Linked DNA regions of Homo sapiens. The protein of the gene in region 2 interacts with the protein of the main gene of each other region in a pairwise test. Each region holds a gene or a part of one and is shown on either strand. Other genes may lie near its edges.

Region 1 (7,026 bases), on a different chromosome or scaffold from region 2:
GGCCACCTGCTCCAATCCCAGGCAGTGACAATCGTGCAATGTCCCTGGAGCAGGAGTGAGATATCAGATGGACCTGTTCAGGACTGGGGGGGGTCTCACTCCCAGCTGGATCCTTCAAGCCCAGCGCAGCCCCCCAGATTCCACATGTGGGGCGGCAGGGACTCCAGGCCTGAACTATGCATAGCCAGAAGGGTCCATTGCAGGGCTGTGTAGACTGAGGCCCAGAGAGGAGGGCTGAGCAGTCCCAGAGATGCTTGGAGGGACCTCTGTGATAGCCTCGCTTGTGTTTTCCAGGCCCGAGCTGCTCACTGAGGGAGTCAAAGAGCCCATCATGGATAGTCAAGGTACCCAGCGCGGGGTCGGGAGCCATGGTGTGGGCGGGCAAGGGAGGGCCCCAGGCCTCTGCCACCAGCCCCTCCTCCTGCTGCCTCTGTCCTGCTCCCATCCTGGCCCTGGCATTCTCCCCACACCCCCACATTGGGTTTCCCCTAACGATGCCATCTTGGGTCCCAGGAACTGCCTCCTCACTTGGCTTCTCTCCCCCTGCCCTGCCCCCAGAGAGGGATTCCGGGGACCCTCTGGTGGACGAGAGCCTGAAGAGACAGGGCTTTCAAGGTAAGGTTGAGCTCACGGGGAGGTCTGTTGTCCCAGCACCAGGACATTGACCTGGTTTGGGTTTGGAGGGCCAGGCTGGAAGTGGGGAGGAGCTGGCCCCCAACTTCAGGGCCTAAGGGACCAGGCAAGCCAGGTTGGCAGCCCAGGCCCGGCTGTACCCTGCCAGCTCTGTGTTAGAGACTCCAGGGGAGAGGGGGTGCCTACAGGTGGACGGTCGGGGGAGCCCAGGAGCCTGCCTGCCCCCTCCCTGCCCCACCCCCCAGAGGTAGCTGACACGCCCACTCCTTTTTCAGCAATCAGCTGTGGTCTTAGTGCTTTGAAATCAGAATAGGAGCCAGACGCGGCACCTCACGCCTGTAATCTCAGCACTTGGGAAGGTCAAGGTGGGAGGATCGCTTGAGGCTGGGAGCTCGAGACAAGCCTGGACAACATAGAACCCGTCTCTATGTCTATTTTTAAGAAAAGAAATCAGAGGCCGAGTGCAGTGGCTCACGCCTGTAATCCCAGCACTTTGGGCGGCCGAGGCAGGTGGATCACTTGAGGCCAGGAGTTCAAGACCAGCCTGGCCAACATGGTGAAACCCCGTGTCTACCAAAAAAATACAAGAATTAGTTGGGCGAGGTGGCGTGCACCTGTGATCCCAGCTACTAGGGAGGCTAAGGCGGGAGAATCGCTTGAACCTGGGAGGCGGAGATTGCAGTGAGCCGAGATCATGCCACTGCACTCCAGCCTGGGTGACAGAGCAAGACCCTGTCTCAAAAAAAAAAGAAAGAGAGAGAGAGAGAGAGATGGTGGTCTGGGATCCCTCCAGCACATGCTGGCACTTGTCTTTGTTTGTTTGTTTGGATGGAGTTTTACTCTTGTTGCCCAGGCTGGAGTGCAATGGCGTGATCTCAGCCCACTGCAACCTCCGCTTCCCGGGTTCAAGCAATTCTCCTGCCTCAGGCTCCCAAGTAGCTGGGATTATAGGCACGTGCCACCACACCCGGCTAATTTTTGTATTTTTTAGTAGAGACGGGGTTTCACCATGTTGGACAGGCTGGTCTCGAGCTCCTGACCTCAGATGATCTGCCCACCTCAGCCTCCCAAAGTGTTGGGATTACAGGCATGAACCACTGCACCCAGCTTTTTTTTTTTTTTTTTTTTTGAGACAGAGTCTTGCTCTGTCACCCAGGCTGGAGTGCAGTGGTGCGATCTTGGCTCACTACAACCTCCACCTCCCAGGTTCAAGGGGTTCTCTTGCCTCAGCCTCCCAAGTAGCTGGGATTACAGGTACGCACCACCATGCCTGGCTAATTTTTGTATTTTTAGTAGAGATAGGGTTTCACCACATTGGCCAGGCTGGTTTCCAACTCCTGCCCTCAGGTGATCCTCCTGCCTCAGCTTCCCAAAATGCTGGGGTTACAGGCATGAGCCGCCGCGCCCGGTCACACTTGGGCGTTTTTAATGAACACTTTCTGGGTGAGGGTGTCTTGGTGGCTCATGCCTGTAATCCCAGCACTTTTGGAGGCTGAGGCAGGCAGATCACTTGAGCTTGGGGGTTCGAGGCCAGCCTGGGCAACATGGCGAAACCCCATCTCTACCAAAAACACAAAAAAGAAATTAGCCAGGTGCGGTGGTGCACGCCTGTGGTCCCAGCTACTCAGAAGGCTGAAGCAGGAGAATCGCCTGAGCCTGGGAGGTGGAGGTTCCATTGGGAGCCGCCAGGCCCATCCCCTGTGTCTGTGGGGACTGCCCATCCTCCTCCATCTGCTAGATCAGCTGGGCTTCCATTCCCTCGCTTGTCTCCAGCCCCCTAGTGACTTCATGAAGCCCCCGCCCCCTGCCTGCCAGCCCAGGGCACAGGACTCCGTACTCTATGGTGTCCCTCCCCTCCGGGGCTTATTTATTGGTTTGGTGGTTTTCAAATGTCATCAATTAACTTAATTTCCAACTCATCACTGTTGTGGCAACAGTGCATGTCCTTCTGAAAAAAAGACATCTCCATCAACATGTCGGTGCTGAAGGACCTGAGGGGCCCACTCCAAAGATCCTTTAATTGCCGGAGAAGGAGTTCCCCATAATTAGAAAATCATCTTCCTTAAAAGTCACCAAGTGCTTTTTCACTCAACAGCCCAAACCCATAATCGTTTTGCGCTTTGCAGAAAATTATGACGCGAGGCTCTCACGGATCGACATCGCCAACACACTAAGGGAGCAGGTCCAGGACCTTTTCAATAAGAAATACGGTAAGCAGTGCAGAACCCCCGGGGAGGGACACGCAGCTGCTGTGCACAGAGAAGTGGGAGGCTTCCCAGTTCCAGCCGAGGGCATTTCTGGGGAAACAATTCACCCCTTTACATGTATTTCTTGAGCATATACTACGTGCCAGGCACTGTCTCAGGCACTGGGGATATTGCTGTGAATAAAACAGACACAGTCCCTGTACTCATGAGCCTTGCAGACCAATGAGGTGAGATACACTTTCAAGAACTACACACAGAATTTAATAGACAAGGGCCCGGCACAGTGGCTCCTGCCTGTAATCCCAGCACTTTTGGAGGCTGAGGCAGGTGGATCACTTGAGCTCAGGAGTTCGAGGCCAGCCTGGGCAACATGGCAAAACCCCATCTCTACCAAAAACACAAAAAAGAAATTAGCCAGGTGCAGTGGTGCACACCTGTGGTCCCAGCTACTCAGGAAGCTGAAGCAGGAGAATCGCTTGAGCCTGCGAGGGGGAGGTTGCAGTGAGCTGAGATCGCGCCATTGCATTCCAGCCTAGGCAACAAAAGCGAAACTCCGTCTCAAAAAAAAAAAAAAAAAAATGGAGCATATGACATGGGAGCATATTGGTGTGGCTTTTTCTTTCGTTTCTTTTTTTTTTTTTTTTTTTTTTTTTTTTTTGAGACAGGGTCTCACTCTGTCACCCATGCTGGAGTACAGTGGCGTGATCATGGTTCACTACAGCCTCAAACTCCTGGGCTCAAGCAATCCTCCTGCCTCAGCCTCCCAAGTGGCTGGAACTACACCCCACTGGGCACTACCATGCCCAACTAGTTTTTAGAAATTTTTAGTAAAGACAGGGTCTTGCTGTGTTGCCCAGGCTGATCTCGAACTCTTAGACTTAAGAGATCCTCCTGCCTTGGTTCCCCAAAATGCTGGGATTACGGGCATAAGCCACCATGCTGGCCTTTTTTTTATGTTCTGATCAAACAGCTCAGATTGTAATGCCTATACCTTTCCACAGTGCTACACTACATAAGAGCTTTCTCGTACCATTCACTCTCCTGCACGCATGTCTTTCCATCACATCCCCGCAATCCCATGTACACACACCCCACGCTGCCTCTCACTCCTGACGGGCAGGACCCTGCCTCTCGCCCACAGGGGAAGCCTTGGGCATCAAGTACCCGGTCCAGGTCCCCTACAAGCGGATCAAGAGTAACCCCGGCTCCGTGATCATCGAGGGGCTGCCCCCAGGAATCCCGTTCCGAAAGCCCTGTACCTTCGGCTCCCAGAACCTGGAGAGGATTCTTGCTGTGGCTGACAAGATCAAGTTCACAGTCACCAGGTACTCAGTGGGAAGGGTGAGGGTGAAGAGGCAGGACTAGCTCAGATGGGAGCTTGCACCTGCGAATCCTTAGCCTTTCCCTAGGTCCTGCCCTCCCCCCTGGACAAGGTGGCTCTCCTGGCACCATCCTGGGTCCTGGGGGTGGTTGGAGAGGGACTGCAGGCCAGCCCAAGTGAAGGGAGCCCTTCAGAAGTGGGACTGGTCACCCCCCCATGGCAAGGGCAGCCTTTGAGGGCATCTTCAACCTGTTCAGCAACACCCGCTCACTGCACCCCCAGCCCCCGGGAAAGGTATTCAGCCCCCATCAGAGGGATTTGCCCAAGGTCCCGGGGCCAGCCAGGGCAAAGCCTGCACAAGGCCCAGGTCTGCGTCCTGCAGAGTGACACTGCCAATGCCAGCACCCTGCCACATTGTCTCAGTGTCCCGCACACACAGAGCCCCAGGGCAGCTTGTTAAAATGCAGATTCTGCTGCTGTAGGTCTGGGGTGCTCCCAGGGGAGACCGAGGCCACTGAATCCCAGGGGTGTCTTCCTCATCCCCCAGGCCCTCCCCATGACACCCCTGCCTCTGTTTCTCTTCTAGGCCTTTCCAAGGACTCATCCCAAAGCCTGGTAAGAGGCACTGGCTGTGGAGGGGGCACTGGGAATAGGGCCCGATCGTGGTGCTGGGGACTGGAGCTAAGCCTGCTGTGGGGCACAGGTTCTGGGGTCTGGGAACAGAAGCCAGGCCCCTGCCTTTCTTTTTTTTTTTTCTGAGGCAGAGTCCTTCTCTGTCACCCAGGCTGGAGTGCAGTGGCTTCATCTCGGTTCACTGCAACCTCCACCTCCTGGATTCAAGCAATTCTCCTGCCTCAGACTCCTGAGTAGCTGGGATTACAGGCAATTGTCACCATACCTGGCTATTTTTTGTATTTTTGGTAGAGACGGGGTTTCACCATGTTGGCCAGGGCTGGTCTCAAACTCCTGACCTCAAGTGATCCACCCACCTCGGCCTCCCAAAGCGTTGGGATTACAGGCGTGAGCCACTGCGCCCGGCCTAGGCCTCTGCCCTTCTGTTTAGCCACCTTACCTGGGCTCCTGCCCCAGGTAGATGGAGGAAGACTAAGCTTGAATGTGGCCCCAGATCCTGGGACAGAGAAAGGGGTGGTGGCGTCAGTGACTTCTAAGTTTTACCCAGTCTGGGTTCAGGAGGGAGGGGCCAGGCCGAGTCAGTGCACCTGCTCCTCCTGATAAAGGGGCTCTGGTTGACCTCAGTGAATAGGCGAGGTTGGAGGTGAGTGGGTTCCTAACCGCAGAAGGAGGGGTGTCTGCATGGGGACCACAAGCATGTTGGTAAGATGTGGGTGGCGCCTACCCTGCCTTAAACAGTGCAGTGCCTCTCCTGACCCTTTTTAAAAAAATATTTTATATATATAATAAAATATATACATAATAAAAAATATATATAATAAAAATATTATATATAATTAAAAATATTTATATAATTAAAATATTATATATAATTAAAAATATTATATATATAATAAAAAATATTATATAGAGAGAGAGAGAGACAGAGACAGACCAAGTCTCACTTTGTTGCCCAGGCTGGAATGCAATGGCACTATCTCTGCTCACTGCAAACTCCACCTCCCAGGTTCAAGCTATTCTGCCTCAGCCTACCAAGTAGCTGGGATTATAGGTGGGCACCACCATGCCCGGCTAATTTTTGTGTTTTTAGTAGAGCTGGGTTTCACCATATTGGCTAGGCTGGTCTCAAACTCCTGGCCTCAAGTGATCCTCCTGCCTCAGCCTCCCAAAGTGCTGGGATTACAGGCATGAGCCACCACACCCGACCTCCTGACCCTTTTTAAGGCACCCATCCACTTCTGTCTCCACCATGGACTGTGTCCTGGCCTCCCAAACCCAGATTTGCAGGGGCTGTCCCTGCAGGGTGATCCCAAACCCAGATTTGCAGGGGCTGTCCCTGCGGGGCGACATGCCACTTGGCAAGCACTAAGGGCTGGCCAGAGCCTCCAGGGCGGGCCAGGCACGGTGGCTCACACCTGTAATCCCAGCACTTTGGGAAGCCAAGGCAGGAGGATCACTTGAGGTCAGGAGTTCGAGATCAGCCTGACCAACATGGTGAAACCCCATGTCTATTTAAAATCCCAAAATTAGCCAGGTGTGGTGGCGCACACCTGTAATCCCAGCTACTTGGGAGGCTGAGGCAGGAGAATCACTTGAACCCGGGAGGCAGAGGTTGCAGTGAGCCGAGATCGCGCGACTGCACTCCACCTTGGGCGACGGGACTAGATTGTCTCAAAAAAAAAAAAAAAAAAAGAACTTAGGGTACAGTGATGTGGCGGCTGCTGACAGGCCACGGGAACCCCCAGAAGGGGGATCAGGAGGGTGAGGGGTAGTTGGAGAGGGTTTCCTGGAGTAAGGATGGCCCTGCTTGGGCCTCAGGGGAAGATGGGACTTTGAGAGGCAGAGAGGAGGGTGGGTTTGGCGGGGTGAACGGCAGGGGTTGGGGGGTCACTGGATGCCAGAAGTGTGTTTCCGGAGCTCTCGGAGGGGCAGAGTGGTCAGATGATGTTGGAAAGGTGGAGAGAGTGGAAGCTGCAGCAGCACAGTGCAGTGAGTGTGGCTCCAGTGGACACCCGGCTGAGAGGTCACTGGGTTTCTGGCCCTGCACTGGTGCTTTATGCGGGTGCCTTTCACACATATTTTGGGAGGTCCTGCTGGGACAAGGTGGTATTCTAGAGGAACTAGGGTTACAGCAGAGTGCAGACAGAGGAGGCATCTCATTTAGTCTTCATAGCTAGGAGGTTGACGCTAGAGCCCACCTTACAGAGGGGGAGACTGAGGCTCGGTGTGAGT
Region 2 (7,026 bases):
CATTTCTTCTATCCATTCTCATTGCAGTAGGTTCAGTGAGTTCAGATCGACCAAATCAATATGGCTCTACAAAACATACTACCAAATTCATTCCACTGTGGGTGTTGGTATTGTCCAGATAGGGAAACCTATTATTACTAAAGAAAAAAAATTGTTTTAATGGGGTTCTAAAATGGAAGTTTATCTCTTAAAGAACATGAAAAATTTGTTGTGATTAAAAAGCACGCTGCCCTTAGGTTTCTAGCTAGAGTTCATTTCTCTTGATCAGTTTTCAGAAACTACTTTGTTATAGGTTTTTAAAGCCCAGGTCCATTTAATTTTAGCCTTCAGCTGAATATTTTCATCACTAGATTTGTGTAAGAAGAGTGATTTATGCCAGTGTTTCTCAAACTTTAGCATGGATAAGAATCACCTGGAGGTAATGCTTACTAACATTACCAGGTCTCCAAGTGTATTCTAACATGAATATTGGTTGATATTCATTTACATTAATGAGGAAGGCAAATGTGAAATAATGGAGTTAAAACTTAACTCATCCGTCAACAACTAGAACAACTTTTTTGCTGAATTAGGTAATAGTTTAATACTGCATGACTTTGTCTTCAATTTTTTAGTTACACACAATACACGTTTTTGTTTTTCTGTTGTTTTTTGTTGAGACAGGGTCTCACTGTGTTACCCAGGCTGGAGTGCAGTGGCACAATCTTGGCTCACTGCGCTCTCTCCCTCCCAGGTTCAAGCAATCCTCCCACTTCAGCCTCTTGAGTAGCTAAGACTACAGGTGCATGCCACCATGCTTGGCTAATTTTTTTATATTTTGTGGAGACAGCATTTTGCCATGTTGCCCAGGTTGGTCTCAAACTCCTGGACTCAAGTGATCTGCCCACCTTGGCTTCCCAAAGTGCTGGGATTACAGGCATGTGTCACCACACCTGCCCACCACACATTTTTAAGTTTAATCTGCATTATTAACATTTTCTTCAACACTTTACTAAGTCTACACCAGTGATCAACAGACTTTATAAAGAGCCAAATAGTAAGAATTCTAGATTTTGTGTGCCAGATGGTCTCCATTGCAACTATTTAATTCTGCCATGGTAATGTGAACGCAGCCATACATTATAAAATGAATGGGTGTGGCTGTGTTCTAATATAACTGTTTATAAAAAACTATTTATAGGCCTCAGTTTGCTAACCCGTTGTCTAAACAATCAGCATAATAATATATCAAGCCCTGCCACCACTAGATCTGAGGACCCATTCCTCCTTCCTTTTTCTTCTCTTCCCCCCTCAGAGGTAACCACTATTCTGAAATTGTTGTGTATTATTCCCATTTATACTTTTGTACTTTTACATATTATCACAGTAAAATAGACTGCACTCAGCTGCCTTAGTTTTGTTTAGAATGATGGGAAAGTGCCCTCCTTTTGGGGGAGGGGGAATTCCAAGAGCTGCCAAAGTTTATGCATACTATTAATGACAACAAATAACAAGTTATCTATATCAGCAAAGCTATAATACATGAATAAGGAATTGAATTTAAACAGAATGAAAAGACAAGCCACAGACTGAGAGAAAATATTTGCAAATCATATATCTGATAAAGGCCTTGTGCCCAAAATCTATGAAGAACTCTTTTAACTTAGTAATAAAACAAACAGATTCATTTCTTTTAAATGGGCAAAATATTTTATCAAATAGTTTACCAAAGAAGATATATGTATGCCATATGAACACTTGAAAAGCTGCTCAACATCATTAGTTACTGGGGAAATTTAAATTAAATCTAAATGAGATATCACTACATACCTATTAGAACATCTACAATTTAAAAAGAGTAGCCATACAAAGCATTGGTGAGGATGGGAAGGAACTGGAACTCTCTCATATATGCTTGGTGGAAATATAAAATGGTACTGCCACAGTTTGGCAGTTTCTCAAGTAATTAAGCATATATTAATACTTACCATATAACCCACTCCTATTTTTTCTAGAGAAATAAAAACATAGATATATATATAAATACTTGTACATGAATATTCATAACAGCTTTATTTGTAATAGTCCCAAACTGCAGACAACCCAAATATCCATCAATAGGTAAATTGATAAATAAATTGTAGTCTATTCATTCAATGGAATATTATTCAGCAATAAAAAGGAATTAACTATTGATACACTAAACAACATGGATGAATCTCAAAATAAATATGCTGAGTAGAAGAAGCCAGACCAAAAAAGAATATGATTCCATTTATATAAATTTCTAGGAAATGCAAACTAATGTATTGTTACAGAAAACAGATAAGTGATGATGATGATGGGAGACATATTTTTCTATATGCCTGATGATGGGAGACATATTTTTCTTGCTTGATGATGGGAGACATATTTTTCTATAGGGTGTATACCTGTAAGAGAGTAATTACAAAGGGCCACAAGGAAATTTGGAGAGATGATGGATATGTTCATTATGTTGATTGTAGTGATGGTGTCACAGACGTATACATATGTCAAAACTTATCAAATGTTACACTTTAAGTAGGTGTAGTTTGGGCCAGGTGTGGTGGTACACGTCTTTAATCCCAGCACTTTGGGAGGCCGAGGTGGGCGGATCATTTGAGGCCGGAGTTTGAGACCAGTGTGGCCAACATGGTGAAACGCCATCTGTACTGAAACTACAAAAATCAGCCGGGTGTGGTGGTGCACCTGTAGTCCCAGATACACGGGAGGCTGAGGCAGGAGAATCACTTGAACCCAGGAGGCAGAGGTTGCAGTGAGCCAAGACTGTGCCACAGCACTCCACTCCAGCCTGGGCAACAGAGTGAGACTCTGTCCCAAAAAATAAAAATAAAAAAGGTACAGTTTGTATATCAATTATTTCTCAATAAAGCTATTTAACTATTTAAGAAAGGAATATTACATTGGTTATAATGAAATGTCTTAATTTTTAACTGAAAATTGTTTATATTAATGATCTTTTTTTATGATGATCAGTCTAAATATTTAATTACTGGTACCTTTTTTCATCTTTTAGGATGTGGAGCCACCCAAAATTTCAAGCACAAAAAACATTTCCATTAAGCAAGAGCCCAAAATATCATCCAGTCTTCCTTCTGGTAATAATAATGGCAAGGTCCTCACAACTGAAAAGGTAAAGAAGGAAGCTGAAAAGAGACCTGCTGATAAAGTAAGATTTTATTTTAATCTTGTTAAAAGAAAGTAAATTAGTTGTTCCATAAGCAGAAAGAAACAATGTTTTATGCCTATTTCTTTTATATAATAATGGGTATAGGTATATAATAATCAACACTCAGTGAATATATATTGATAGCTATAGATTTTGACTTTTCAAAAAATGAGTAAAATTTACAAATTTTAAAGTTAAGTGGTTAAAAGTTATTGTCAATAAATATTTGAGTCCTAGGGAGTATAGTAACTTTGAGTGTAAACTTTAATCTATGCCTCAGAGATCCTAGATGGAACAGTTGTTAAGAAGAAAAGATAGATACACTTTGGGAGGCCGAGGCAGGTAGACTGCTTGAGCTCAGGAGTTCAAGATCAGCCTGGGCAACATGATGAAACCCCATCTCTACAAAAAATACAAAAATCATCTGGGTGTGGTGGCATGCACCTGTAGTCCCAGCTGTTTGTGGGCGGGTGGGGGGTGGGAGGATTGCTTGAGCCCAGGAGGCAGAGATTGCAGTGAGCGGTGATCGTGCCACTGCACTCCAGCCTGGGTGACAGAGTGAGGCGCTGTCTCAAAAAAAAAGGAAAGCAAGAAAGAAAAGATGGGAAAGAGTATAGATGTAAATGACTAAACATAAACTTTATAGAGTGGTATGCACCTGAACAGTGCCAAAGATGATTCTTGGATTGTCTATTTTTAGATGATTTCTACATATAGTAATTAAGATTTTAGTAGTTAGAAAAAAATACATTTGAAAGATATCTTCAGTAACCCTTGCCCTCAAGATGGAGTATATTATCCCGTATGTTTTCATACTTTTGCTAAATAGTGGCTATTCATAAACTACATTAGATTATTTCTCTGTTTTTAGATCTACATAAGTGAAGCTGGGTGTGGTGGCTCATGCCTGTAATCCCAGCACTTTGGGAGGTCAAGGCAGGAGGATCACTTGAGGTCAGCAGGTCGGGAGTTGGCCACCCTGGCCAACATGGCAAAACCCCCTCTCTACTAAAAATACAAAAATTAGCCAGGTGTGGTGGCGCACACCTGTAGTTCCAGCACCTCAGGAGGCTGAGACGTGAGAATCACTCTAACCCAGCAGGCGGAGGTTACAGTGAGCAGAGATTGTGCCACTGCACTCCAGCCTGGGCAACACTGCAAGACTCTGTCTTAAAAAAAAAATTATGTAAATGTTATCATACTGTGTGTGTGTATATCCTTTGGTAACTTTTTCTCCACTCAACTATGTGCTTTTGAAATGTATCTTTGTTAATGCATGTAGATCTAGATTTCTTTTAGCTACTACATAATACCAGTTTATCATTCCCCTACTGATTTATCATAGGGGAATGATTAACCAGTTTATCATTCCCCTACTGATGCACAATTAGATATTTCTCCTTTGTTTCTATTACAATGGAGTTTGAGTGAGCTACTTTATACATATGTCATGTTAATAGTTTCTATAGGATGTATACCTATAAGTGAATATAATAGGATATGACATCTTCAACATTACTAGGCATTGCCAAATTTCTATCAAAAGTAGATGTACTAAATTTACACTGTCATCAACAAAGTATAAGAATTCCAAATTCCATGTCTTATCAGACTTTTTGATTTTTGCCAAATCTAATGGGTATATTGATAATATTTATATCTTAAAGAAGGGAATCCGAATTTGCTTTGAAGCAAATATGTGTTAAGTCTGTATGGTAGATACTAGTCTAAGTAAATCCATCGATCTTCCATAATTCTTTAGTAGATAGAAGAGTACAAAGAGAAATACAAATATTTGTTAAACTGTTCTGATTTATTTATTTCTATCTTGCTGGTTTCATTTAATATACTAATAAATTCATTGCAATTCTTCTACAGATCTTTAATGTGCACATCTGTCCCTAACTATGTGAATATATCTGTAAAATGGACTTGTTCATTGCCAATTGTCCTTCTCACTCGTCTTTCAGTGACTTAAAGTTTATTCTACCACATTACTTTATCATTTTCTGATGCCTGCTTTTTATAGATGAAATCAGACATCACTGAAGGAGTTGATATTCCAAAGAAACCTAGATTGGAGAAACCAGAAACACAGTCATCTCCCATTACTGTCCAAAGTAGCAAGGATTTACCTATGGCTGACCTTTCCAGTTTTGAGGAGACCAGTGCTGATGATTTTGCCATGGAGATGGGATTGGCCTGCGTTGTTTGTAGGTAAGTTGTACCTTGCCACAGATTCTTTTGTTACTTTATAAAGAACACATGACCCTTTCCACTCCTCAACCCCCAAAATCAGAAAAATTGTTGTGCATTTTCTATTTTGTTTTTACTATTTGGAACTGGGGTGGAGATAAGTAGGTAACTGCCCATATAACAATTTAGCATATTGAAAATTGTCAACTATTTTGTCTTTCCCAACTATGGCTTTTAAATCTGTTATGTTGTAACATTTTCTGCATTTTTGGGTTCCAGAGGGAAAGTGATTATTATATTATGATATATATGCCTTTGATAATCTAAGGCTATGGTGATTGCTTTTTGTGCTGTTGAAATTTATACTTTTTTATACACACATGGCTTCATTCTATTAATCTGATCAGACATTTATTGAGCACCCTATGTGTGCACAGTAATGTGCTAAGGACTGTGGATAATTAGGTCCAGTACTCACCTTTAGGTGACTCATATTAATGAAGAACAACAACAACATACAGCTAACTAATATAAGGGAATTTAATGGAGATACAAAATGTTATGAGGCTGTTGGAAGACTAATCAGAGTCTACTACCTTCTGAGAGAAAGGCAAAAATTATGACGAGAAATGACGAGAAAATAGCCAAATTTAATTAAGGCATTCTATATATTTATTAATGGTTGACCATAAGCTTTAAAAGCTTATGCTTTTGTGCATGCCAAGTGTTGGGGTTTGTTATTTGCTCTTTGGGTTTCTGGGATTTTTTTTCTTTTTAATATACCAAACTTTACCAGAACAACCTGGAAATAACTTTTTTTTTTTTTTTTTTTTTTTGAGACAGAGTCTTACTCTGTCACCAAGGCTGGAGTGCAGTGGCATGATCTTGGCTCACTGCAGCGTCCATCTCCTGGGTTCAAGCGATTCTCCTGCCTCAGCCTCCTGAGTAGTGGGGATTATAGGTGTGTACCACCATGCCCAGCTGATTTTTGTATTTTTAGTAGAGACAGGGTTTCACCGTGTCAGCCAGGCTGGTCTTGAACTCCTGACTTCAAATGATCCGCCTGCCTTGGCCTCCCAAAGTGCTGGGATTACAGGCATGAGCCAGCACACCTGGCCCCTGAAATAACTTTAAATTATGGCATTTAAAAAAGTAGTGTAATGTTTAATGGTATGTTTTCTTAGGCAAATGATGGTGGCATCTGGCAATCAATTAGTAGAATGTCAGGAGTGCCATAATCTCTACCACCGAGATTGTCATAAACCCCAGGTGACAGACAAGGAAGCGAATGACCCTCGCCTGGTGTGGTATTGTGCCCGATGTACCAGACAAATGAAAAGAATGGTAGGAATCATATTTTTCTTTATTTTAAACAGTCTGTCAATGTTTTTGTTGGTATGTGCTTTCAAAACAAAGATTTGAATATTTAAGATATTGAAAAAATAAATAATATAAGCTGATTATTTATTTATATGTATAGTATGTACATGTGATTAATATTTCTATTGCTAAAGACCAGACCATGTTATGTGCATTTTTCTCTTTTTAGTTTTATCTAATTCTAATATAGATAAAACAAGATTGGTGACACACAAATTATGAATATTCCTTACTAGTCTGTCAATGTATTGACAAACATT

The links. The genes of interacting proteins can lie anywhere in the genome.
Region 1: the proteins of INTS12 (region 2) and GTF2IRD1 interact in binary tests that used the Homo sapiens proteins (3 or more experiments, as listed by UniProt).

The regions. Positions count from the first base shown.
Region 1 is NC_000007.14:74,554,880-74,561,905, forward strand, and holds part of GTF2IRD1 (general transcription factor II-I repeat domain-containing protein 1), read left to right. Parts: intron 1-294; coding exon 295-344; intron 345-513; coding exon of another isoform or gene 514-558; coding exon 559-615; intron 616-2,759; coding exon 2,760-2,843; intron 2,844-3,981; coding exon 3,982-4,165; intron 4,166-4,747; coding exon 4,748-4,776; intron 4,777-7,026. UniProt on the Homo sapiens protein: May be a transcription regulator involved in cell-cycle progression and skeletal muscle differentiation. May repress GTF2I transcriptional functions, by preventing its nuclear residency, or by inhibiting its transcriptional activation.
Region 2 is NC_000004.12:105,691,680-105,698,705, reverse strand, and holds part of INTS12 (integrator complex subunit 12), read left to right. Parts: intron 1-3,037; coding exon 3,038-3,190; intron 3,191-5,219; coding exon 5,220-5,407; intron 5,408-6,570; coding exon 6,571-6,730; intron 6,731-7,026. UniProt on the Homo sapiens protein: Component of the integrator complex, a multiprotein complex that terminates RNA polymerase II (Pol II) transcription in the promoter-proximal region of genes.